Homo sapiens: one gene and its partner. The protein of the gene in region 1 purifies or fractionates together with the protein of each later gene. This does not show direct contact. Each region holds a gene or a part of one and is shown in the gene's direction. Other genes may lie near its edges.

Evidence for each region.
Region 2: the proteins of COL20A1 (region 1) and GGACT purify together in Homo sapiens (affinity purification with mass spectrometry; 2 studies listed by BioGRID and IntAct, with this or other methods). This does not show direct contact.

Annotation. Positions count from the first base shown.
Region 1 is NC_000020.11:63,292,980-63,305,343, forward strand, and holds the start of COL20A1 (collagen alpha-1(XX) chain precursor), read left to right. Parts: upstream 1-206; 5' UTR 207-296; intron 297-2,118; 5' UTR 2,119-2,128; coding exon 2,129-2,210; intron 2,211-4,930; coding exon 4,931-5,041; intron 5,042-12,364. UniProt on the Homo sapiens protein: Probable collagen protein.
Region 2 is NC_000013.11:100,583,456-100,595,698, reverse strand, and holds the start of GGACT (gamma-glutamylaminecyclotransferase), read left to right. Parts: upstream 1-6,909; 5' UTR 6,910-6,958; exon of another isoform or gene 6,959-7,099; intron 7,100-11,701; 5' UTR 11,702-11,874; intron 11,875-12,243. UniProt on the Homo sapiens protein: Contributes to degradation of proteins cross-linked by transglutaminases by degrading the cross-link between a lysine and a glutamic acid residue. Catalyzes the formation of 5-oxo-L-proline from L-gamma-glutamyl-L-epsilon-lysine.

The DNA of each region.
Region 1 (12,364 bases):
CCCTGCCTCCTCACTGGTGGGACCCTGCCCTGCTGTGCAGTGGGGTCCTTCGTGCTGGGATCTTTGTGGTCCCCGTTCTTGGAGAGATGCCCGGGGCGGCAGACAGGAAGGGTGGAGGGCAAAGGGAGGGGAGGAGAGAGAGGCAGGCCGAGGGGTGGGTCGGGGGGTGGGCTGGGGCAGTGACTTCTGTGGAGGAGAAGCCTTTCATAAGCTCCAGCCTTCCTGTGGCCACAGCAGGACCAGAGTGGACCAGCACACCCCAGGAGAGAGGACTGGGGTCCCAGGAGTAGGAGGAGGTGGGTGACTTCCCTGTGGTCCTGAGGCTGGGTGGATAAGGGGCTGCCAGGAGATCCACTCAGCCTGTGATCTGAGGGTGACTGACTTTCAGAAAAGTCTAGATAGAGGCCAAGTGCCCCTGTGAGCCACAGGACCGGGGTGCCCAGCACGCACAGGGTGTGGCCAGGAGGGGCCGGGGCAGTGGGAGCCCGGGGCTGCCTGAGCTCTCACCAAGGGCTCCCTTCTGGGGGTCTCAGACAACATCCAGGGCTGTGGGGGAACGAGGAGGGTGCACATCGAGCAGAGAGCGGCTTGCACTTCAGGCTGGATGCCTGTGGCCCTGGCAGGGGTCCCACTGAGTCAAGCCAGGTTTCTGGGGTGGGAGGATCCAGGGACTTGGGGGCACTCGGGCTGCCCACTGGTGCCTCTGTGATCAGTTTGGGAGCCCAGCCCTCAGGTGCCTCCTGTTCCAATGCCTGGGTCTTACCTGACTGCCCTTGGCCGGCCGGGCGGGCATGAAATCCCTGATTTAAGCCGGTGGCTTTCCCGCCGGGTGAGGCCTTTCCCTTGCAGAGGAGCAGATTCCCTGGTGGGGATACTGGGGTCACACACTGGGAGGGGGCGTGTATTGGGGGGGTCTCTGTTCGGCTGCAGGGGGTGGGAGGGCCTGGGTCACTCAGGACCCTAGAACCCTACTGTGTGGGAGGCTGGGGCTCACAGAACCAGGGCCTGCACTCAAGCCATGCCCTCAGCTCAGCACAGAGGGGTAGGGGCCCGGCCTGCCGGGAGTGCTCTGTCTGCTTTCTGAAGGCCCGAGTTGGTGCGTGGGGTGAGGGGCTGGCATGAGCAGTCTCGGGGAGCGGGAGTGCAGGGGAGCGGAGTGTGAGGGGAGGGGGAGTGCGGGGGGAGGGGAGTGCGGGGGAGGGGGCGTGCAGGGGACTGGGGGTGCAGGGGACTGGGGGTGCAGGGGAACGGAGTGCAAGTGAACCCCCGGCATTTCTTCTTCAGCCCTGGGCGTGGTGGCAGGTGGAGGACTCGGGCCTGGCAGCTGACATGCTCCCCACCTCTCCGAGTGGCACCTCTGGGCACTGGTCACTGGGTTACCCTGGCCTCTGAGTCCCCCTCAGCTGCTCCTCAGAGCACCCCAAATCCAACCTCCACTCCCAGCCCCTTTGAGTGGGCCGGGCCTGGTTTTTTCTGGTCCTCCTTGTAGCCCACTCAGCTCTCCAGTGGCCCTGGCGGCCTCCCTGTCTCGGCCTCAGAGCCGTGTGCCCGTGGCACACACACCCTGCACCCCCGGCTGGCGTCCCCCAGACCCACCCGCTCCCCACTCCTACTAGGCAGCTCTCACTCTCCTCCACAGGTCTCTGATGACCCTTCCGCCTCCAGGGCGAGGCTGGGGCCACAGGGACTCCACATGTCCAGCAATCAGACATTGCCTGGAGAGCTCGCCCCTTGCCTCAGCCCTCCGTGGCCCTCGGGAGCCCCACAAGCAGGAGGCCCCGTGCCCGTCCCAGCCACCCCTGCACTGGGCGTGGGGACAACTGGGGGCTGGGGGTCCTGTTGTCACTCAGAGCAGCCCCCGGTGGTGTAAATGCCAAGAGTGGGGTGGGAGTGGGAGGCAGCCCCAGCTCTAGCCTTGGGTCCTTGAGTTTTAGGCAGCTGGGAGGTATCCCCTAGACAACAGGTTGCAGGCCTCTGGTCCTCACACATGTGAGGGGTGGAGCCCGGTGTGGGGACAGGCTGCCTGGCCCTCGAGGATTTGGAGAAGCTCTGGCGTTGTGGTCAGGGAGAGGACAGACGGGGGGACGGCTGAAGGGCATGGCCTCTTCCCTGCCACAGCCCGAGCACCATGAGCTCCGGAGACCCTGCACACCTCGGCCTCTGCCTCTGGCTGTGGCTGGGCGCCACCCTGGGAAGAGAGCAAGTTCAAGGTAAGGACACTGGCAGTGGGCCCCTGCTTGCCCCGAGGCCACGCCTGCCCCACCAGTGCCCACGCGGGACGAGCCCTCCGCCCCTGAGCCCCGTCTTCCTCCTAAGTTGAATGCGTGCTGAATTCACAGCAGCTCCCACAACAAAGGCAAGACGGGAGGGAGCGTGTGCTCCCGCCAAACCTTCAGCCTCGCCTTGGGAGCACATCTCTGTGGTTTAGTTCTCTGTTATATTAATGCTTGGCCGAGAGTTATTCCACGAACACCTTTCGGAGCAGTCTCTAGGAAGCAGGAGGCTGGGGTAAAGATGGAGCCGCCTTCCCTTCCCTCCTGCCTGCTTCCCACCGCCGCCTCCCACTGGTGTTTTGGGCACATAGCCCTCTGGCTTCTCTCGGTGCGGCACTCGCATTTCCACGCAGCACCACCCCCTCCGTGCGCATCCCTGGGCGACAGCACCACGTCCTCAGAAGGCCCCTCCAGTCTGGCTGCTACTGGTTGGGGCGTTTGGGTAACGTAGGGCACCGCCCATGGCAGCAAAGGGAAATGGCAGAGGATGCTGTGGGCTCACCTGTCTGAGCAGCTTCTTCCTCCTGTTGAGAAATGTGGGTTTAGATTGACTCTAGGAAGGTGAATTTCCGTGTCTATGGAGAAGGCTCCGGGGCCTCGGCCACGCTGTAAACTTGTCCCTGGGCTGGGCCAACGCGGCGCCTCCCGGCACCTGCAAGCTCCTGGGAGGTTCCGGGCTCCCACTGAGCGATGGTTTTGTTCCGCTGGGGTGAAAGGCAGCTCCCCCTTCTACTGTGCGTTTAAAGCACCCCCACCAGGGCCTGACAGGCCGGGGCGAGGGAGCCTCCAGGTGCCGCTGCCATTGCAGAAGGGCGGGTGAGATGCGGGAGCCCCGGTGTAGCGTGGAGCCGCCTGTTGAGACCCTTCCGGGTTTCACGGCTTGTCTTGCCATGCTGATGTGCCAGGTTTGCCCTGCACACAGGCAACAGACCATTGCATGAGCAGGTGCCTTGGTCCCCTCAGCTCAGACAGGGTAACCCTGCCCTGGGGCCAGTGGGGGCTGAGATTTCAGTTTGAAAGAAGCTTGCACTGTCAATTTGAGCCAAATCAGTAAGTTGCTTCTACAGAAACAACTTGAGTTTAGGCGAAGGCAAATCTAGTTCTATCTAGTTCAGGATTCAGCATGATGGGGCCACCCCTCACAAGGGCCTTTCGGGGGCCATTGAGTCCCTGAGGACAGCCAGGTGGGCTGGGGGCACTGAGTCCAGCCCAGGACGGGTGGGAGCCCACACGCTGGGGCAGCCCTTCCCAGGATGGCCCAGGCTGGGTGCGGCCACAGTCCAGGGAGGGGAGCGTGGTCCTGGGTGGGGCCCTTCCCACCAGCCGCTGTCTGCCCAGTGCCCTGCTCAGGCCCCAACAGTGCTGTCCTCCAGCAGGGAGCTGGGGAAGGGGTCCCTGACGTTCTCAGGCAGAGTGGAGCAACAGAAGGCTCTTCACAAGCAGGGGCTGCGGGAGGGGCCCTGCTCACAGCTGGCCTTCAGAGCCCCCTCCTCATCCCCCACACATTCCTGCCTTTCAGCCCCATCCGGAGACCCGGCCCAGCTGCTGCCTGCTCTGAATGGGTCATTGTGTCTGCCCCAGTGCCCCCCAGCCCCTGCTCTTCCCCCCGAGCCCCAGCTTTCCGGGGGGCAGCCCAAAGAAGCCCATCTCTGTCCCCATTTTCCAAAAATAGCTGCCCCTACTGCAGAGCCCCGGAAGCTTTCAGGGGGCACCAACCCTCTCCAGAGCCCTGGGAGGTTGGCCAGGCCCCTGCCGCCCCCTCTTCCTCTCAGATGGCCTGGACACCCATCCCCCATCGCGGGAGGCAGCCTCGTCTTGGCATGGACGCACACATGTACCAACGTGCACACACGTGCCAATGTGCACACACTTCCAGTGTGGGATTCTGCACCCACACTCCCCACTGAGGCGGCACGTGCACCTGGCAGTGACCTTGGCAGCTAGGGGTCTGCAGCTGCATGGCCACTTGTCCTGGGGACCCAGCCCAGGGGACTCAGCCCAGGGGCCCCAGCCCAGGGGACTTAGCTCAGGGGACCCAGCCTGGGGACTCAGCCCAGGGGCCCCAGCTCAGGGGACTTAGCTCAGGGGACCCAGCCCAGGGGACCCAGCTCAGGGGACTCAGCTCAGGGGACCCAGCCCAGGGGACTCAGCCCAGGGGCCCCAGCCCAGGGGACTTAGCTCAGGGGACCCAGCCCGGGGACTCAGCCCAGGGGCCCCAGCTCAGGGGACTCAGCTCAGGGCCCTGGGCAGGTTGCCAGCTGCTGTGTTGGCTCGGGGCCTCCGATCATCAGTGGGGTGGTTGCTGTCCTCCCAGACATGGGCCTGAGCCTCTTCCTGGTGGGAGGACCCCCGGAGAGCCAGGCTGGGGCCTCCCTGGGTGGGACTGGACTCCCTCTCACCAAAGCTACCAGGGTGGCCCTGTGACTGCGGACCCCGGGGAGGGCCGGGTTCTCCTCAGCGCCCAGGCGAGGCCTCGTATCCCCAAGTGGGGCTGAGTCCGCCTCAGACACCCTGGGTGGGCTTCTGTCTCTTCGGGGTCCCCCGGGATAGGACTGTGTTCCTCCCAAATGCTGAGGGCAGGATGCCTGTACCCCCACAGCTGATTAGGTGGATGGGGAGGCCAGGTCAGTCCTGACCACTATGTCCTGTTTCTGTAGCAAGCGGTCTCCTGAGGCTGGCTGTGCTGCCTGAGGACCGGCTGCAGATGAAGTGGAGAGAGTCGGAGGGGAGCGGCCTCGGCTACCTGGTGCAGGTGAAGCCCATGGCAGGTGAGGACCTGCCCCTCCCAGGCCCCCTTCCCCATTAGCACGTGCCGAGGACAGTCAGTGTGGTGGCCGCAGCCACCACTCAGGCCCACAGCATCCCTCCCACCAGCCCCTTAGTGTCAGCACCTCTCTGGCCTTGGTCTCTGCTGACCCACATTCCTTTCCCCCGTCACATATGACATGGAAGAGGGAATGGGGCTCCTCTGTCCCTGGCACGCAGCCCCTGCAGAAGGCATTCAGTACATACTTTTAATTTTTTTGATTTTTAATTTCAATTTTTAATTTTTTTTAAAGGCAGGGTCTTGCTGTGTTGCCCAGACTGGAGTGCAGTGGTGCGATCACAGCTCCCCGCAGCCTCAATCTCCCGAGCTCAGGAGATCCTCCCACCTCAGCCTCCTGTGTAGCTGGGAGTACAGGTGCGTGCCACCACTCCTGGCTAATTTTTGTATTTTTTGTGGAGAAGAGGTTTCACCATGTTGCCCAGGCTGGTCTTGAACTGGGCTCAGGAGATCCGCCCCCCTCAGCCTCTCACAGTGCTGGGATTACAGGCGTGAACCACCATGCCCGGTCCATATTTTTTAAAGAAACGACTCCCTCCTCAGAACGAGTCTCAATGCGTCAGGGGCATTCAGAACAGCCTGGACTCCGCACAGCGAACCCCAGAAGCACCTGCTCCCCACGCGTTAATCCTTGTTTCCAGGAGCAGGGCCTTGAGGACACCTTTTCAGGGAACCCTGTTCCTAGAGCAGGAACAGTCCTAACCTGACAATGGGTGCTAATTTTAAAGCTTTTCAAAACTCAGATGGAAAAGCACACAGGCATAAATGCTAACTGTATGAATCAGCACTGTGGGGTGGCCAACTCAAACCCCTCCTGGGGTGGAAAACGACCGTCCCGGGTGCCCCGGTGCCCTTGCCAACGTCCACCCTCCCCTGCTCCCTGGACGGCCGCCTCCAACAGCATGGACTAGTTTGCCTGTTTCAGAACATTCTCTAAGTGGAATCACACCATGGCGACTCCCTCATGTCTGTGTCTTTGGTGGGCATTTTGTGAGGTTTGCCCCGTGGTGTGTAACAGCCGTCCATTTTCTTTGCTGTATAGTATTCCCCTGTGTGATCTCTTCTGCTATTGATGGACATGTGGCTTGTGTCCAGGTTGGCTGTTGTGTAGACGCCGTGTGAGGGATCCCGCGTGTGTTTCTGGTGTCCGTGCGCCTGTTCTGGGTGTAAACCCAGGAGTGGAAGTGCCACAGTGTGTGCATAGTTTCAACGTTAGTAGAAAATGTTGAACTATTTTCCAAAGGGGTCGTGCCAGTGTATACTCCCGTCAACACTGTATGATTGCTTCCGTTGCATGACACCCTTGGCAACCAACGCTTGGCAGCCTGACTGGAGCTACTCTGGTGGGTGTTCAGTGGTATCCTGTGTTTCTTTGTGGAGCTGTAATTTACGTGCAGAAATCTTCACCCTTTTGAGAAGAGGTCTGTGATTTGTATTTATCACATGAATTCAATCCTGTAGCCGCTATCACAATTGATGTAGAGAACAGTTCTGTTACCCCAAGGTCAGCCCTTAGCCCAGTGCCCGTAACCACTGAGCTGTTTTCTGTTTTGCCTTTTCCAGATAGATGGACCTTATCAGGTTCAGTCCTGTGCTGTTCCTACGTAAGGCTGAGTTTTTGTCAAGAGAATGCATTATTTTTTCCAAACTTTTTCTTCAGTGAGGTGGTTATTTTCTCCTTTATTTGATTAATGTAGTAAACTACAGTGATTGATTTTTTAAATATTAAACATAATATATACATATATACATATATATGTATATATACGTGTGTGTGTATACATATATACGTTGTGTGTATATATATATGTACGTGTGTGTGTGTGTGTATATATATATGTATACCTTAAGAGACAGGGTCTCACTCTGTCACCCGGGCTGGAGTGCACAGTGCAGTGGCACAGTCATAGCTCACTGCAGCCTCCATCTCCTGGCCTCAAGCAGTCTTCTCACCTTGACCTCCCAAAGCACTGGGATTACAGGGGTGAGCCACTGTACCTGGCCTATCCCCTTTTATATGTTATTAAATCAATTTGCAAATATTTCATTTAAGATTTTTATACTTATATTCATGAGGGAATATTGGCCAATAACTACCCTTTCTTATAAAGTCCTTTTAAAGTTTGGTATCAGCTTTATACCTCATAAGATGAGGTGGGGAAGGATTCCTCTTATTCTGTTTTCTGGAAGAGTTTGTGTAATGTTGGTGGTATTTTTTTCCTTAAATGTTTGCTAGAATTCACTGGTACTGACTTCTGGGCTTGTGGTGTGTGTGTATGTGTGTAAATACTTCACATAATTGATTCAATTTCCTTAACAGACATAGGACTACTCAGATTTTCTAATTTTTTTGGTCAGTTTTGGTAAGTTAGTTTTTTAAACAGGAATTTGTATTTTATATAAATTTCCTGATTAGTTGGCATAATGTTTTTCATATTACCCCATAGACTCTATAGTTATAGCACCCTTTTCATTCCCGTTATTGATTGAATCTTCTCTCTGCTTTCAAAAGGCAGTCTGGAAGTTTATTTACTTTATTAGTCTTTTAATAAAACACATTTTGGCTTGGTTGGTCTGTCGTTGATTTTGTTTATTTTTTATTGTTGTTTCTATTTCTTTTACTCTGTGTTTAATTTTCTGCTCTAACTTAAGATGGATGCTTAAGTTCATTGATTTTCTGCCCTTTTACAAGATATAAAGTTAAAACTATTGAATTTTCTTCTAAGCAGTAGCTATAGCTGCATTTTGATATGTAGAATTTTCATTATCATTCAGGTAAAAATATCTAATTTTTGTTACGATATTTTTATTTGACCCATAGGCTACTTAGAAGTGTGTTTCTCAGTTTTAAAACATGGGGGATTTTCTACTTATTTTTTGTTTTGGATTTCTTCCTTCATTGCATTGTGGCCAGAAATGTACAATATGCTTTCAGTCCTTTGGAAAGTACCTTGCTGGCCGGGCGTGGTGGCTCACGCCTATAATCCCAGCTCTTTGGGAGGCCAAGGTGGGCAGATCACTTGAGGACAGGAGTTTGAGACCACCCTGTCCAACATGGCAAAACCCCGTCTCTACTAAACATACAAAAATTAGCTGGGCGTGGTGGCACACACCTGTAATCCCAGCTACTCGGGAGGCTGAGGCAGGAGAATCGCTTGAACCTGGGAGGTGGAGGTTGCAGTGAGCCGAGATGGCACCACTGCACTCCAGTCTGGGTGACAGAGCAAGACTCCGTCTCAAAAAAAAAGTACCTCGCTTTATGGTCCAGCATATGATCAATTTGGTCAATGTTCCATGTGACTTTGAAAATATATGCAATTTGCAGTTGTTGGGTAGAGTTTTCTAATGTTCTAATTAAGTCATTTACCTTATTTTTCAGATTTTTTATATAGTTACTATGTTTGGGGTCTACTTATGCTGTTACTGAAAAAAGTATTTCAAATCTCCATTCTAATTGTAGATGTGTCTTTCTTGTGGTTGTCTTACTGTTCTTTGCTTTATGCATGAGGCTCTGTTATTGGGTACATACAAACTTAGAATGATTGTATCTTCCTGGTAGGTTGACCCTTTTTCATTTTGAAATGCTCTTCATTATCTCTCTAGTGCTGTTTTTTTCCTTACATCTTACTTGTGATGGTACTATTGCTTCACCAGGTAGTGTTTGCATTAAATCTCCTTTCTCCTTCTTTTACTGTTAATCTTTCTCCAGCCTTTCATTTTAGATGTGTCTTCTAAGCAGCATATAATTGGGTATTGTTTTCACCCAGTGTGACAGTCTTTGTCTTTTTATTAAAAGATTTTTTCCATTTATATTTAATGAAATTAATGATACATTTGAGTTTATATCTATAATCTTCCCTTTTTATTACACTTGTTATAAGTTTTTATTCTCCGCTTTCTTGTCTTTGTTTGAACTGATTTTTCAATGGAAAAATTTAAACACAGGCAAAAGAAGAGACCATAGTATAATGAAACCTCATGTTTTCATGATGCAGCTTTCAGCAATTATCAGCGTGCGGCCAATATTGTTTTATGTCCCTCTCCTCAACCCCCCTCTACATTCTATATTATCTTAAAGCAAATCCCAGGCATTATATAATCCTGTCTATAAATATTTCAATATGTTTCTCTAAAAGACTCAATCATAACCCCAATACCATGAGCAGCTCCCAAATTTAAAATGTTTCAGTACTATCATGGAATATTTAGTTGTGTAGAGTTTTCTAACTTGATGCATGTCTTTTATTAATTAATTAATTATTGAGATGGAATCTCACTCTGTCACTCAGGCTGGAGTGCAGTGGCATGATCTTGGCTCACTGAAGCCTCCTGCTTCCAGGTTCAAGCAGTTCTCCTGCCTCAGCCTCCTGAGTAGCTGGGATTACAGGCACGTGCCACCACGCCCAGCTAATTTTTGTACTTTTAGTAGAGACGGGGTTTCACTGTGTTGGCCAGGCTGGTCTCGAACTCCTGACCTCAGGTGATCCACCTGCCTCGGCCTCCCAAAGTGCTGGGATTCCAGGCGTGAGTCACCGCGCCTGGTCTTGATGCATGTCTTTTACAATTGATTTGTCTGAATTGGGGTGTGAACAGAGTCTACACACTGTGTTTGGTTCCTGTGTCTTAAGCAATTTTTAATCTAAAGCAGTTTCCCCCTCTCCCTTTTCCTTGACATTTATTTGTAGAAGAAGAAACAAGATTGTTCTGTCGAACTTCCCACTTTCTTCTCTTGCCAGTGGCATCTTTGGGGAGCCGTTTAGCTCGCTCCTTCGTCTCTCCACCCTGTCTCCCATAGACTGGCAGTTACATCCTGGAAGTTTGGTCAGACTCAAGTTTGATTATATTTGTTAACAAGAATTCTTTATCAGTGGTGCTGTGTAACTCCTGCGTTACCACAGCTGGCGGTACATAATGTCTGGTGTGTCTTGTGAAGTTAAGATTGTTCAGTAGGTATGGGGTGATTATTCCCTGATGCCATCAACTTGGTGATTCTATATTCTTTTACCCTTCAAGTAACCACACTAGCGACCACAACATACAGCCTTGATTTATCAGCATATGATATACATAATGGTTGTCTCAGCTGTCCCCAGGCAACGCTAGGACCTTAGAACATCACAATAATATTTATCCCATTTTCAAGCACTTGTGTTTATTTATTGATTTTTGAAATGGGGTCTCACTATACTGCCCAGGCTGGACTCAAACTCCTGGGCTCAAGTGATTCTGCCACCTCAGCCTCCCAAGTAGATGGGATTACAGGCATGCCCGGCTTTTAAAATTCTATATTTATATTAAATGTCATAAAACTTTTTCATTATTGTCATTGCTTGTTAATCACGTGTTTGTGCAGGAAGCCTTGGGAATATGACAGACCTGGGCTTCTATCCCACTTCTACTGCGGAGTAGCTGTGTGATTGGTCCTTTGTGCCTCAGTTTTCCTATCTATAAAATGGGTGTAATGGAGTTGTGAAGATTATGAGGCTTGATACCTGTGAAATGCTTAGGATACTGCCAGGCACACAGTGAAAACTCAATAACAGTTAGCTGTTGATGGTAATGACAACACCCCTGCCTCCCATTTGCTCAGCCAAGAACAGAGGGTCCTCCCTGGCTGGTCACTCCCTGGCGCGGGGCTGGGTAGGGCTGTGGGGAGCCACTCACTGCACAGGGAGGATGGTGTCCCTTTTCTTTCCAGGTGTGCAGGTGTGGGTTCCTCCCTCCCTTCCTCCCTCCCTCCCTCCAGGTGTGCAGGTGCTGGCTCCTCCCTCCCTTCCTCCCTCCAGGTGTGCAGGTGTGGGTTCCACCCTCCTCTTCTCCCTGCAGGTGTGCAGGTGTGGGTTCCTCCCTCCTCTTCTCCCTGCAGGTGTGCAGGTGTGGGTTCCTCCCTCCTCTTCTCCCTGCAGGTGCGCAGGTGTGGGTTCCTCCCTCCCTTCCTCCCTCCAGGTGTGCAGGTGTGGGTTCCTCCCTCTCTTCCTCCCTCCCAGTGTGCAGGTGTGGGCTCCTCCCTCCTCTTCTCCCTCCAGGTGTGCAGGTGTGGGTTCCTCCCTCCTCTTCTCCCTCCAGGTGTGCAGGTGTGGGTTCCTCCCTCCCTTCCTCCCTCCAGGTGTGCATGTGTGGGTTCCTCCCTCCCTTCCTCCCTCCAGGTGTGCACGTGTGGGTTCCTCCCTCCCTTCCTCCCTCCAGGTGCGCAGGTGTGGGTTCCTCCCTCCCTTCCTCCCTCCAGGTGTGCAGGTGTGGGTTCCTCCCTCCTCTTCTCCCTGCAGGTGCGCAGGTGTGGGTTCCTCCCTCCCTTCCTCCCTCCAGGTGTGCAGGTGTGGGTTCCTCCCTCCCTTCCTCCCTCCAGGTGTGCAGGTGTGGGTTCCTCCCTCCCTTCCTCCCTCCAGGTGTGCAGGTGTGGGTTCCTCCCTCCTCTTCTCCCTGCAGGTGCGCAGGTGTGGGTTCCTCCCTCCCTTCCTCCCTCCAGGTGTGCAGGTGCTGGCTCCTCCCTCCCTTCCTCCCTCCAGGTGTGCACGTGTGGGTTCCTCCCTCCCTTCCTCCCTCCAGCTGCGCAGATGTGGGTTCCTCCCTCCCTTCCTCCCTCCAGGTGTGCAGGTGTGGGTTCCTCCCTCCTCTTCTCCCTGCAGGTGCGCAGGTGTGGGTTCCTCCCTCCCTCCCTCCCTCGAGGTGTGCAAGTGTGGATTTCTTGCCCTTTTCTCCCTTGCCTTAGCACTTGAGACCCAGAGAATCACCCAGTGCTCACAGTGCCTCTCCAGGTCTGACTGCTGCCTCCTGAGTGCTCTTTCAAGGCCATTTCTTCTTGCTCTTTCCTCTGAGAATATGGCAGTGTCCCCTTTGGAATCATTTGTTTGCTTTTCACACTTGAAATCCAGACCTAACTTTAGAATCATGGAGTCACACAGCAGAAAATACTTGCGGCTGGTCGGTCCGTGCAGCCCATAGGGTAGGAGCCTGTGGGAGTGGGCAGGGCCCTGGCCCCGGACTCTTCCTTCTTGGACCTGGCCCCTCGGGTCGTCATCCCCTCCCTGGGCAGCCCTGTCTTCATACCTTGACAGTATCTCTGAGGGTTGATGGCTTCTCACCTCACCATGCGGCGGATTCCTCTAGGGGGGTTTAGTAAGTGACATCTTCTTTTCACCGCCCCAAGACCCCCATTCTCTGTCACATTATTACCCAGGAGCCCATGTCCCTTCCATCAGACCCTCTCCCTTTCTGTCTCTCTGGCTTCAAGGGGAGCAGCTGGGGTGGGGAGGAGGAGCCAAGAGGG
Region 2 (12,243 bases), on another chromosome or scaffold:
TTTCTGATAAAACATACAGATGATAGCTTTCACAGTACTGGCCTAGGAAACTGCAGACCTCGGCAAACAAGGTGACAGGGTAGAAAAAGCATGGGAACAGGTGTGTGAGAGCTGTGCTAGGATTAACTTCACTGGCATGTGTCTTTTATTTTTAAGTTCCAGCAATCCAATTAGATACAAACAACTCCAATCCTTCCTTTAGTTACTTGGAACCTGGGATGAATCTGTTAATTACTCCATGCCTCAGTTGCTTCTGATAAAAATAATGGTAGTGACACAGGATTTTCTTCTCAGTCATTTTGCAAGATGCAACACCCCACCCAGGCCTCACTCAACCACACTACCTGCTGCAGGACACAGCCTGCCCACTCAGCCTGCCCAGGCCCGGTCAAGCTTATGCACTGATTCCCCAGTTCTTGTCTTACACCCAAGAAGAATGAGGATGCACTGACAATCAAAGCGTGAGCAAGGCGGGGTTACTGAATGATGAAATAGCTTTCATGGAGAGGGGACGCCGGGGTGGTGCCCCTACCCAAAGGTGGGAAAGTTCCCCTAATATGGCTGAGTCTGAGGCTTTTTATGGGCTCAGAATGGAGAAGGGGCAGGCTGTAGGTAATATTGGAAAAGGCAACATTTGATTAGTTAAAAGGCATAATTCAGAAAGAATCAATTGGGAAAGGATGGGCAAAAAGGAACAGAAGTTCTCACTCTGGGTTGCAGACTTCATCCGGGACCGGCAATCCGATCTTTCAGCTTTCAGGCTGTTTTTGGCCTGAAGGTGGCGTTTCACTGGGGACCTGCCCTACCTGCCTAGGCATTTGGCTGCCTCCTGTCACTATCAGTAGTTGTCCTTGCTTTGGTTAATTTCTCCTCTATGAAATAAGATTGGACTAACCCAGGAGTCTTCAAAAATACCTAGATGCTTTATCCTTTTTTAAAAAAACATGAACTCTTATAGAGAAGTCCACTGGAAGAAGTTATAAAGGTGAGCTGCTTTGCATGCTTATGCAAATCCTCATCAAAATCTGTTGTGAAATATCATAATGTTTGAAATGCCAACACCCGCATGGAAATAAAGTATTTTGAAGGTTTCTAGTCCTGATATGGCCTGATCAGTTAAAAAGGTATCTCAGACTGAAAAAGTAAACTTCTGCCCCCTGCCATCCATCAGGCTGAGATAGCACAGATAACGACAGCAGCAGAGGGAGCGGGAAATACGTCCTCCAAGGACACACGGATGTCATATCAGGTCAAATCACCCCCGTCCTTGGGTGCTTGCTGCTTTCTTACTCACTGAGAGGCTTCCTTCTGGAAAAGCATTGACTATCAGAAGGTTTGCTGTTTGAAATCATCAGGACGGAACCATCTCAACTTACCCGGGGGATCCGAGTCTCCTTGAAACAAACAAGCAGCCTCTATTTCCAACCTGGGTGCAGAACTTCCCTTAAAGGGTTTCTGGGTGTGCCAGTCTGCATCTATATTAACTCTAGTCTCCAAGGATGTAGACCCCCAGACTCCAGACCTGATGTTGATCTGTACTCACAGCTCTGTCTGCCTTGAACCTGTCAAAACACTCTTTCCTTTAAATTTCACCTACACGCCACCCCTCCCCTAAGTCTTCAAACTTTACCTTTGCTGAGGCATCCCAGGATTCCTCTGGCCTCAGTCTTCTCTCCTTGCAATGAGCCAATAAATCTGACTTTATCCAACTACAGTTTTGCACCTGGTGGTCTTTGATTGGGCCCAGACAGGCCACGTGCCAATCAAAGCAGAAGAAATTCTCCCTGGTCTTTACTATTTCATGCAAGAATAAGGATCAAATGGATCGTGTGTGTGAAAGTGCTTCACTGAGAGAACTACATGTATAGGATTACTTACTGGAACTAATAATTTTAACAAAGAGGTTCAAATATAAATGATAAGTCCTGATAATATACAGTTCAGGGTATATTACCCAGCTTCCCCGTTTAAACCTCATGGTAAGAGAACAGGTTTTCGGCTCAGCTGGGTGTGAGTTCAAGCCATTGCACGCTTATTTACAGTGTACCTTTGAGTGAGTTATTTTACCTCTCAGAGCCATTTCACAGGTAGAATGGGGATAATAATATCTGGTTCATACTATTGTTCAAAGGATGACACGAGAAGAGTCATGTCGTGCCTGGCATATGAGGCCCACTCAATATGCCTTAATTCCCCACATTGACCACTCAAAGAGAACCCAGCTACATTTCATTTTGTAATGTCTACATTTCTAGACACCAGATTAGCATTATTTCCTTTTAAAAGTTACTGCTTGAATAGCAGGGCAGTGACTTGATTGGCAGCAAGGTGATAGGGTTAGAGAGGCTGTGGCCTGCCTACAGCTCTTTCAATGTCATTAGCTTTGAGCATGGTGGATAGTATATTTGGCTGGTCAGATTACTTCTGAGAATTCTTATTCTCCTATTCATGATTGGGGATTTATTCAACAAAGCTAAGGAAATAACCTCATATAGTGCTTTCTTCCGGTCTTTGCTTGTTGTTCCTGAAATTACAGAAGATGGCAAGAATAGCATAAACCATCTCAACTGCAATTGCTTGGAAAATTTCATACACTTTTTAAAAAAGATACTGCATATCTTTTGTGGAGAAAAGGTCAATGCCTTATTCACAAAAACCTGCCGGCAACCCACATCATCTTTAAAACATTAATTCTAGAAATACTGGGATTGAATTTAAAGTGAGCGAACTTAGCTTCGTGAGGTTGGTTTTCTCTGCTCGTTAATTTGTCATGGAAATTGTTTAGCAGTGAGACCTGTTGTAACAAGTAAAATAATCACACAGAAAGAAATAATAATCCTGCTGTTTTCAAATTTAACAACTTTTTAGAGCCGGGTTTAGAAGTGGAAGTAAGGAATCCAATGGTTTGCAGAATATACACTATTTGCTATCTTTTGCACACGCATTTTCTAAATTAGCCTACTAATCCTATGCTGAAATTTGAAAGTCTTCTTGTTAAGTTCATACTGGTTTACACAGGGAAATGATCAGAAAGTAAACCTCACGGCACGAGGTGCTTGAAACATACACACAAAGCATGAAGGTCTGTGCTCGTGAAACTGGGTTCAGTAGGGAGACAGTTACAGAAAGGAGAGGAAGGTGTTGAAACAGAGGCAAGAGCAAGAAACACAGTTTGCAGCGTGGGCAAACTTTCTGTAAAAGAAGATGTTAAGTATTTTAGGCTTTACAGGCCATATGGTCTCAGTGGCAGCTACTCAATGCTGCCGCTGTCCTGTGAAAGCAGTCACAGACAGTGTCAACAAACAAAATTCTATATACAGACACTGAAACTTAAATCTCATGAACTATTATGAATTTTTTTCCAAATATTTAAAAATGTAAAACTCTTTATTAGTTTGAAGGCCATAGACAACCAGGTTGGATTTAGTCTGCAGGCTCTTTAGGCCCAAAGATGATTATTAAATGGTTTACTGAAATAATTTGGTAATATTTCAGTAGATTTTATGGTGTTATTCAGTTGGACTTCAAGCTCCTTATATAGCCCTCCTTTTGGTTGTTTACCTCACATTATAGCTAGAGTTTCAAGAGACTTAGGGGATATCTTCCCCTCTATTGGACGTTACTTGCAATGCTGGAGGCACGCAGGAGAGAAACACCCAGAGGAGGCTGGCCTCGTTTGCATAATATTAAGTAGTAATGTATTTAGTTAAATAGGAATATAAATTAGACATCTATTACACCCAGGTCTGGAAAACAGAGCTCAGCAATTACCTGCTCTGATTTAGGCAAATACAAATGCCAAACTGGTTAATTCTGGTTAAAGACAATTTGCTGGTTTAAATCCTTGTAGTTGATAAGGAAAATGTTTGCTGAGCTTTGAACAGGTGCTGATATGATTTGGGTCTGTGTCCCCACCTGAATCTCACGCTGAATTGTAATCCCGGGTGTCAGGGAAGGGCCTGGTGGGAAGTGATTGAATCATGGGGGCAGATTTCCCCCTGGCTGTTCTCGTGATAGTGAGTGAGATCTCACAAGATCTGGCTGTTTAAAACTCTGTGGCACCTCCTCCTTTGCTCTCTCTTTCTCCTTCTCTGGCTGTTTAAGAATTTAAGATGTGACTCTTTCCTCTTCACCTTCTGCCATAATCGTAAGTTTCCTGAGGCTTCCCCAGCCATGCTTCCTGTACAGCCTGTGGAACTGTGAGTCAAACCTCTTTTCTTTATAAATTACCAAGTCTCAGGTAGCTCTTTATAGCAATGCAAGAACAGACTAATACAGGTGCATAGTGATTTGCTGACTGCATGACCCTAAGCCTAGAGGATGTGAGAGTTTGTAAAAAGGCAGAGCAAAGGGGCCAGAATGAGCAGCTGAACCCTTTGCAGTGAATGACTCAATTGTACCATTTGGACACAACCAAACAGACTTGGTGAGTCGACCCAGTTCCTAAAAGCTACCAGAGCAGTTGGCTTGCCAAGGGATCCTGAATAACTGACCAACCCTAAACTGACAAGCCCGGGACCTGCTTAGATTGACCAGTCTATTTCCTTGAGGCACTTTGTGAGTTTTATCTCTATGAGACCCAAGCTTTGCTGTGGAGCTGTCTTCACAGTGACAGCACCCTGGAGTGTGTCTATACACAAGAAAATCTTCACTTAGCACCCTCTGTCCACCTGCAGAATCTTAGACCCTACTCCTGGCTAGCTGAACCAGAATCTACATTTTAAAACAAGACCCTGGGTTGACTGACGTGCACGTTAAAGTTTGAGAAGCACCGAGGTACATCCTCAAAAGGCGATGGTTTTCAAACTTGAACTGGCATCACTCATTAGAATGTCCATCTCTGGGCCCCACCCCCAGACTTGCTGACACTGAGTTGACCCCCAGAGTCAGGACACCTCCAGTGTGGCTGGAGATTGTGCATTTCTAAATACCCAGGTGCTGCCAGTGCTGCTGGACTGGGACCACATTTCAAAAACTGCTCTTCAAACTGTGAGTTGTTTTCCAAGAAGTTAAACTGAAGGCTTCATCCCACAGAGCCTATTCTATGTTAGATTGGGCTTCCCCAGCCTTATCTGGGATGCAACTTAACACTTGTCTTGGCTAGGCACTGTGGCTCATACCTGTAATCCCATCGCTTTGGGAGGCCAAGGCGGGTGGATCGCCTGAGCTCAGGAGTTCAAGACCACCCTGGGCAACATGGTGAAATCCTGTCTCTACCAAAAAATACAAGAAACTAGCCGGGCGTGATGGTGGGTGCCTGAGGTCCCAGCTACTCAGAAGGCTGAGGTGGGAGGATCACTCGAGCCTGGGAAACAGGGGTTGCAATGAGCCAATAACATGCTACTGTACTCCAACCTAGGTGACAGAGTGAGAACCCATCTCAAAACAAACAAAAAATTCGTCTAGTCTGCGTCATCTTTAATTTTCCTTTATCAGAAGAATTATTTATCTATTTGTCTCACTTTCCTTTGCTGACATGATTTTCCCCCCTCAAAAAAGAGATGAAAGTGGAATCATTCTTTCGCTTCAAAAAGTTAAGAATTACTGCTGTCTTTAAAAATATTAATATGAGGCCGGGCGCGGTGGCTCACGCCTGTAATCCCAGCACTTTGGGAGGCCGAGGCAGGCGGATCACGAGGTCAGGAGATCGAGACCATCCTGGCTAAAATGGTGAAACCCCGTCTCTACTAAACATACAAAAAATTAGCCGGGCGTAGTGGCGGGCGCCTGTAGTCCCAGCTACTTGGGAGGCTGAGGCAGGAGAATGGCGTGAACCCGGGAGGCGGAGCTTGCAGTGAACCAGATCCCGCCACTGCACTCCAGCCTAGGCGACAGAGCGAGACTCCGTCTCAAAAAAAAAAAAAAAAAAAAAAAAAATATTAATATGAGCTAGACAAGGTTTTTTAATACATTTCAATTTAATTATGAAGTGTCCAAGACAAGAAAAAACTGTGAAAACCAACGACTTATGTACCTGATGGTTTAGATTTCTTTTGGAATTGTACATCTGTTCAAAATACAATTACATCTGCATTGTTGGAAACGTTTGGATAAAAACCAGTTTATATAAAGGTTTCAATCAGTCCACATCCATGAGAAAGTAGAAAGGGCAGGAAATGATTAAGGGGGATTATTGCTAATCTGATAAACACAGATTTGTGTCTTTCGGAGAGACAGAAGTGTCACTCTCTCCATAGCTGTACCATTCCTACCACCTGGCCCCCAAGTGGCATTGCTTTAACCCATTGTCTCTAGGGAAAATGTTCTCTTTCGATTTTGGTTCTCAGTCCTATAATTTCTGGGGCTTAAATTAGTCCTGGAGCTAGGGAAGAGGTGATGTCATCCTTCCATTGTCTCCTTCGGCCACAGTTTCATTTTAAGAGTATTGGTAAGTAAGTGGGCAGTGTGACTAGATGGCGGTCTGGACTCGGTATCAGGGCTGTGTGCATGCCCAGCTGGGGGGCCTTGGTGGTGTGTGATGTGATAGATACACACATGGTTGGCATCCCCAAGTGTGTCTGCGCTTGGGTTCATTTGTGTGTGCATGTGTGTCCATTTGATGTGGCGTGTCCCCAAGCTTGTGGAGTCGTCTGTGAGTCTGTTTTGTGGGGTGTGGCCCAGGTGTGTCAGGGTCCACCATGCAGTCGGGGCTTGAGCCTGAGTGCCCAGGTGTGTTAGGGTGGATGTGACTTCTGTGGGGCGTCCCCAGGTGTGTGAAGCTGGTTGCGCTGTGTCTGCGGCGGGGCGTCTCCGGCGGGCATCGGCGTGGGTGGGTCTGGCTGTTAGGCGGCCAGTTGTGCGAGCGGCCACGTGTGTGCGAGGGCGCCGCAGGGGCTGGCGGGCCTCGCGTTCCGCCTGCAGGGGGCGCCGCCGGGGGCGGCCTGGGAGCAGAGGCGCGGGCCCGGCCCTGCATTTCCGCCCTGGCCCTGCCCTCCCCGACAGCCCCGGCTGCCGGCAGGTGAGGCGCTGAGCCCGGGCGGGGGTCGGGGCTGCGCCTGCTCCGCCCCCCAGGCGGGGTGTCCTGGCGCCCGCGGGAACCTGGGGCGTCGCTCCCTGCGCGGCGTCCGGGTCGAGGCCGCAGCACTCGGCGTCCCCGCGGGTGAGGGAGGAGGCCTGGGGCGCCGCCGGCCGGCGAGGCCAGCCGGAGGGAGGGGACGGTGGACCCCGAAACGCGTCCTCCATTGCCCCGCGCGGGGGCCACGGGCGCGATTGCCAGAACGGGCAGAGGGCGGTAAAAGCCAGGAACCGCCTCACGCACGGGCGCTGCTTCCCTGTAAAGGAAGCGTGACAGCCCACACGCTGGCTTTCAGAGGACCTCAGCTGAACCGGGCTAACACTTCTCAGAAATTGTTTTTCATTTTAAAGATTTCCTGTTTGTAAGGAGACTAGAAGCTGCAAAAGAAATCTAAAAACGTCTCCTGGCACTTGTGAATTTCTGATCTAAGGTTTCTTTGGAGCCATTAGTGAAACTTCTGAAATTTTGAAGAAATTTACTGCCTTGATTATTAATTATGGTTATCATTGCTGTTTTACTCTGTGGGCCAAGGACAACGCCACAAGCTCAAAAGCAGACTTAAGTGTTTTTTGAACACAGCTTCTTAACTCCACGCTTAGTTGATTTAATATTTAAGTGATAAGAAAATGCAGTCGATTTCTGGCCCTTTTTATTGTTTGGGATGAAGTCTTGCCCTGTTGCCCAGGCTGGAGTGCAGTGGCGCGATCTCGGCTCACTGCAACCTCTGCCTTCCGGGTTCAAGCGATTCTCCTGCCTCAGTCTCCCGGGTAGCTGGGATTACAGGCGCCTGCTATCACGCCCAGCTTATTTTTGTGTTTTTAGTAGAGACAGGGTTTCACCATGTTGGCCAGGCTGGTCTCGAACTCCTGACCCCGTGATCCGCCCGCCTTGGCCTCCCAAAATGTTGGGATTACAGGCATGAGCCACTGCACCCGGGATTTGTGGCCTTTTTTAAAAGCAAGTTATTCGTTTTGCTAAATGTCCCAGGAGAAATGATTAATGAAAAACTAAAGGTGACCTATTTAAAGTGTAGGTCTTACACACACGTAGGTGTCCTTATGTACATTTACCTGTAAGTGAAGACTTTTCCCTGGCCTCATTCAATTTATTGAAATGCTCAGATGAAGAGCACCTGCAGTTTGCCCGTATTTTCCCAAAATGCCTTGTTTTCCTGAAACTATTCCCAGAAGAAGCCAGACTTCCCTGAATAAGCAGACCACTGTGTTCTAGCAGAGATTCGTATTGTAAAAGCTGAGTTTGCAAAGTTAAATTAATTTCTAATTGGTGGATTTTTGTACGGAAATACTTTGGGCTAGTTGATTTTACTAACCAGGCCCTAACTACTACTAGTTAGGAGAGGGTGGTTGTTTGTGGTGATCTGGATAGTAGGTAGCAGTAAGCAGAATAGAAGAGGGATTTTAAAATGATCTGTTCATTTCTCTCTTTACTAGTAAGATTTCCAATCTGTGTCCATTCTTGAAGTGAAGTCATTGGGAGGCTTTGTATCCACCTCGAGCCAGGGCCCTTACCAGTGATTAGGACACCAGCAGGCTGGTGTGGAAGTGTAGTGCAGCCATGCTTGAAGAGGGGACAGGACCCAAGGAAAGGTGACAGTAAGAGGACAGAAACACGAAATATTCGCAGCCCTCTTTAGAACATCCTCCATCTAGGCAAACTCTATTAGGAATTTTAAGAGTTCTCAATTAAACATGACTGCCCAGTGTCCTGCTGAACAGGAATTCATTCTTCAGTTGAAGCTCTATTGTCAGTAAAACTACTCAGGATAAGGCAGCCGTGTTTAGGCCGTGAGGACCTGCCCCTGGACTGCGGAGCTTGCTCCGTAAAAGGCATCGTGATACCCCCTTAAATGGATTTACAGAAAAGACTTAGCTATTGGAAGTCTCTGGGATTGTATGGCATCATGAGGTAACAGACCTGGTAAATAGCTAGAACGTAGCGAAGAATGAAACCAGAGGCAGTGTGCTGTTGGAACTGAGAGGTGAGTGCTCACTGGAGGGCCAGGAGAAGGTCACAGTTGGGGAGACCTTAAGCAGAGAACAGATTTTTATAGGCACAGGAATGGAAAGGGTGGCCAACACCATGAGCAAAAATAAGAAGCTGAAAATGACAGTGTGTTCAGACAAAGGTGAACAACTGGCGTGCTGAGGCTGGACTCCGCGAGAGGAGGGGTGGGGTCGGGGGTGGGGGTGCCTGGAAAGCAAGGCTCTCCAGTGATAACCTCTACATTTTGATCAAGGTTCTGATTTTGTTTGTTTGTTTGTTTTGCTTATTGGGAAAATTTTAAGCAAACATAAAAGCCCAGCAAAGTAGAATGAATTTCCATATATCCATCAAATGGACTTCACAAGTCTTGTTTGGCCATATCCACTTCATCTTTTTTTTTCTTTTTTTGGTTGTGGCTGAAGCAGTTTAAAGCAGTTTATTCCAGACAACATAACACTTCACCCCTAAATTGTTCAGTATGTTTCTCCAGAGAAAGGGCATTTGCTTGTGTAACCATAATACAATTATCACCTCCTGATGAAATTGACAATAATTCCTTAACATTTTCTAAAACCTAGTCCATGATCAGATTTCCCTGATCACCTCAAAAATGAACTTATTTTTACTGTTGGTTTGTTTGAATCCACATCCAGACAAGAATTTGTTGACTGTTACCTTTTTATTTTATTTTATTTTTTGAGACAGGAACCAGCTCTGCTGAGATCATGGCTCACTGTAACCTCGAACTCCTGGATTCAAGCCATCCTCCCACCTCAGCCTCCTGAGTAGTTGGGATTACAGGCATGTGCCACAATGCCCAGCTATTTTTTTTTTTTTTTTTTTTTTTTTTTTTTTTTGGTGGAGACAGGTATTGCCCAGGCTGGTCTTTTTTTTTTTTTTCCTTCCTGAGACGGAGTCTCACTCACTCTTGTCACCCAGGCTGGAGTGCAGTGGCACAATCTTGGCTCACTGCAACCTCCGCCTCCTGGGTTCAAGTGATTCTCATGCCTCAGCCTCCCAAGTAGCTGGGACTACAGGCGCATGCCACCACACCCAACTAATTTTTGTATTTTTAGTAGAGACGGGGTTTCACCATGTTGGCCACACTGGTCTGGAGCTCCTGAACTCAAGTGATCCACCTGCCTCTGCCTCCCAAAGTGCTGCGATTACAGCCGTGAGCCACCGTGCTCAGCTGTTGCCCCTTTCAATCTAGGGCAGGGGTGGCAGATGTCTCTGTGAAGAGCCAGATACCAGCTCTTTCAGGCTTTGCAGGCCCTATGGTCTCTGCCACAACTGCTCAGCTCTGCCATCGTCATGCAGAAGTAGCCAGGGGTGATAGTAAATGGATAAGCATGGCTGTGTTCCAATAATACTTAATTTCCAAAGCTTTTGTGTTTTAAAATCCACCCACAGGCTGGACTTACCCGCAGGCTGTGGTTTGCCGACCCAAGTCTAGAGCAGCCTTGGCGGGTTTCCTCAATACCAATGACTGTCGATGTTACTTGGTTGATTGCCTGTAGGGTGCCTCACACTCTGGATCTGTTGGGCTGCTTTTCGTGGAGTGTGGTTTGGCTTGCTTCTCTATCCCCTATATTTCCTGTAAACTAGAAGTTAGATCTAGAGGCTTAATTAGGTTCATGCTTGCCATTTTTGGCAAGTCTACTTCAGAAGTGGTTTGACTTTTTTTAAATCTAAATTTATCTGACTTTAAAGACTTGGAAACCCTCATCAAAGAATCAAAGAAGCTCAACATTACCAAAATAGGAGCTCAGCATTACTAAAATTGGCTTTGCCTGATGGCTGAGAAGACATTTTTTCTTTTTCTTTTTACTTTTCTTATTTGTAGGAGAGTATATAGAGCTGTTATTTCTCAAATAGTTCTTTTTTGATAGTTAATTTTTGTGGGTACCTAGTAATAGGTGTATATGAGATACAATGTGTAATAATAAACCCTCATTACAAGGTATATGAGATACAATGTGTAATAATCACATCAGGGTAAATGGGGTATCCATCACCTCAAGCATTTATCTTTTGTGTTACAATCTAACGATACTCTTAGTTATTTTTAAATGTATAGTTACATTATTACTGACTATAGTCACCCTGTTGTGCTATCAAATACTAGATCTTATTCCTGCTTTCTGTGTTTTTGTACCCATTAACCATCTCTGCTTTCCCCCAACCCCCCTACTACCCTTCCTAGCCTCTGGTAACCATCATTCTGATCTCTATCTCAGTCAGTTCAATTGTTTTAATTTTTGGCTCCCACAAATGAGTAAGAACATGCAAAGTTTGTCTTTCTGTGTCTGGGTTATTTCACGTCACATAACGACCTCCGGCTGCACCATATTGTTGCAAATGACAGGATCTCCTTTTTAATGGCTGAATAGTACTTCATTGTGTATATGTACCACATTTTGTCAAGGAGGTCTTGAGAACTTTGAACCCTTTCTCTAGGTCACTGGGAAGGTTCCTCTATTCAAGGCATTCTTTGGCCCCTCAAGCATGTGGACTGCATTTTTGCACTGAATATAAGTATATTCCTTCCCTGGGTATGTGCCCAGGGTCTGAGATTGCCTTCTAATGGTAGTTAGGTCATTTATGTTTGTTTGTAAGCCCCTTATTGCTTAAATGTTTAACTTTCTTCAGTTGACTTCCTCTTATCTCACCTCCCAACAGGACTGAAAACTGGATATTTGGTCCCCATGGACTTTCTGGTCACCCTGTGAAGTGGACTTAACTTTTTCTTGAATCATGTGGAAGGATTCTGAAGTCAAAAGTTTTTAAGACTCTCAGGCTTACTGTGGATCTGGATTCTAAGGCAACACTTCCTTGAAGAAACAAGCTTACAGGTGAGAACTGTTAGCCTCTGTTCTAGAGTGTTCATTGCTCAAATTCTAGAGCACCACAAGAAGTATGCTGACAAATAGTGCCAGTTGGAAGCCCTTGTCTCTTTGTCATTTAAGAATAGTAGTGGTGGGGAGCCAGGTACGGTGGCTTGTACTGTAATTCCAGCACTTTAGGAGGCTGAGGCAGGAGGATTGTTTGATCCCAGGAGATTGAGGCTGCAGTGAGCTGTGATTACACTGATTATGCCATTGTGCTCCAGCCTGGGCAACAGAGTGAGACCCTGTCTCAAAAAATTAAAGGAGGAGGGAAAGGGAAGGAAAGAATAGTAGAGAAAGTGTATATTCATTTCTTCATCTGTTTTTCTCTGGGGT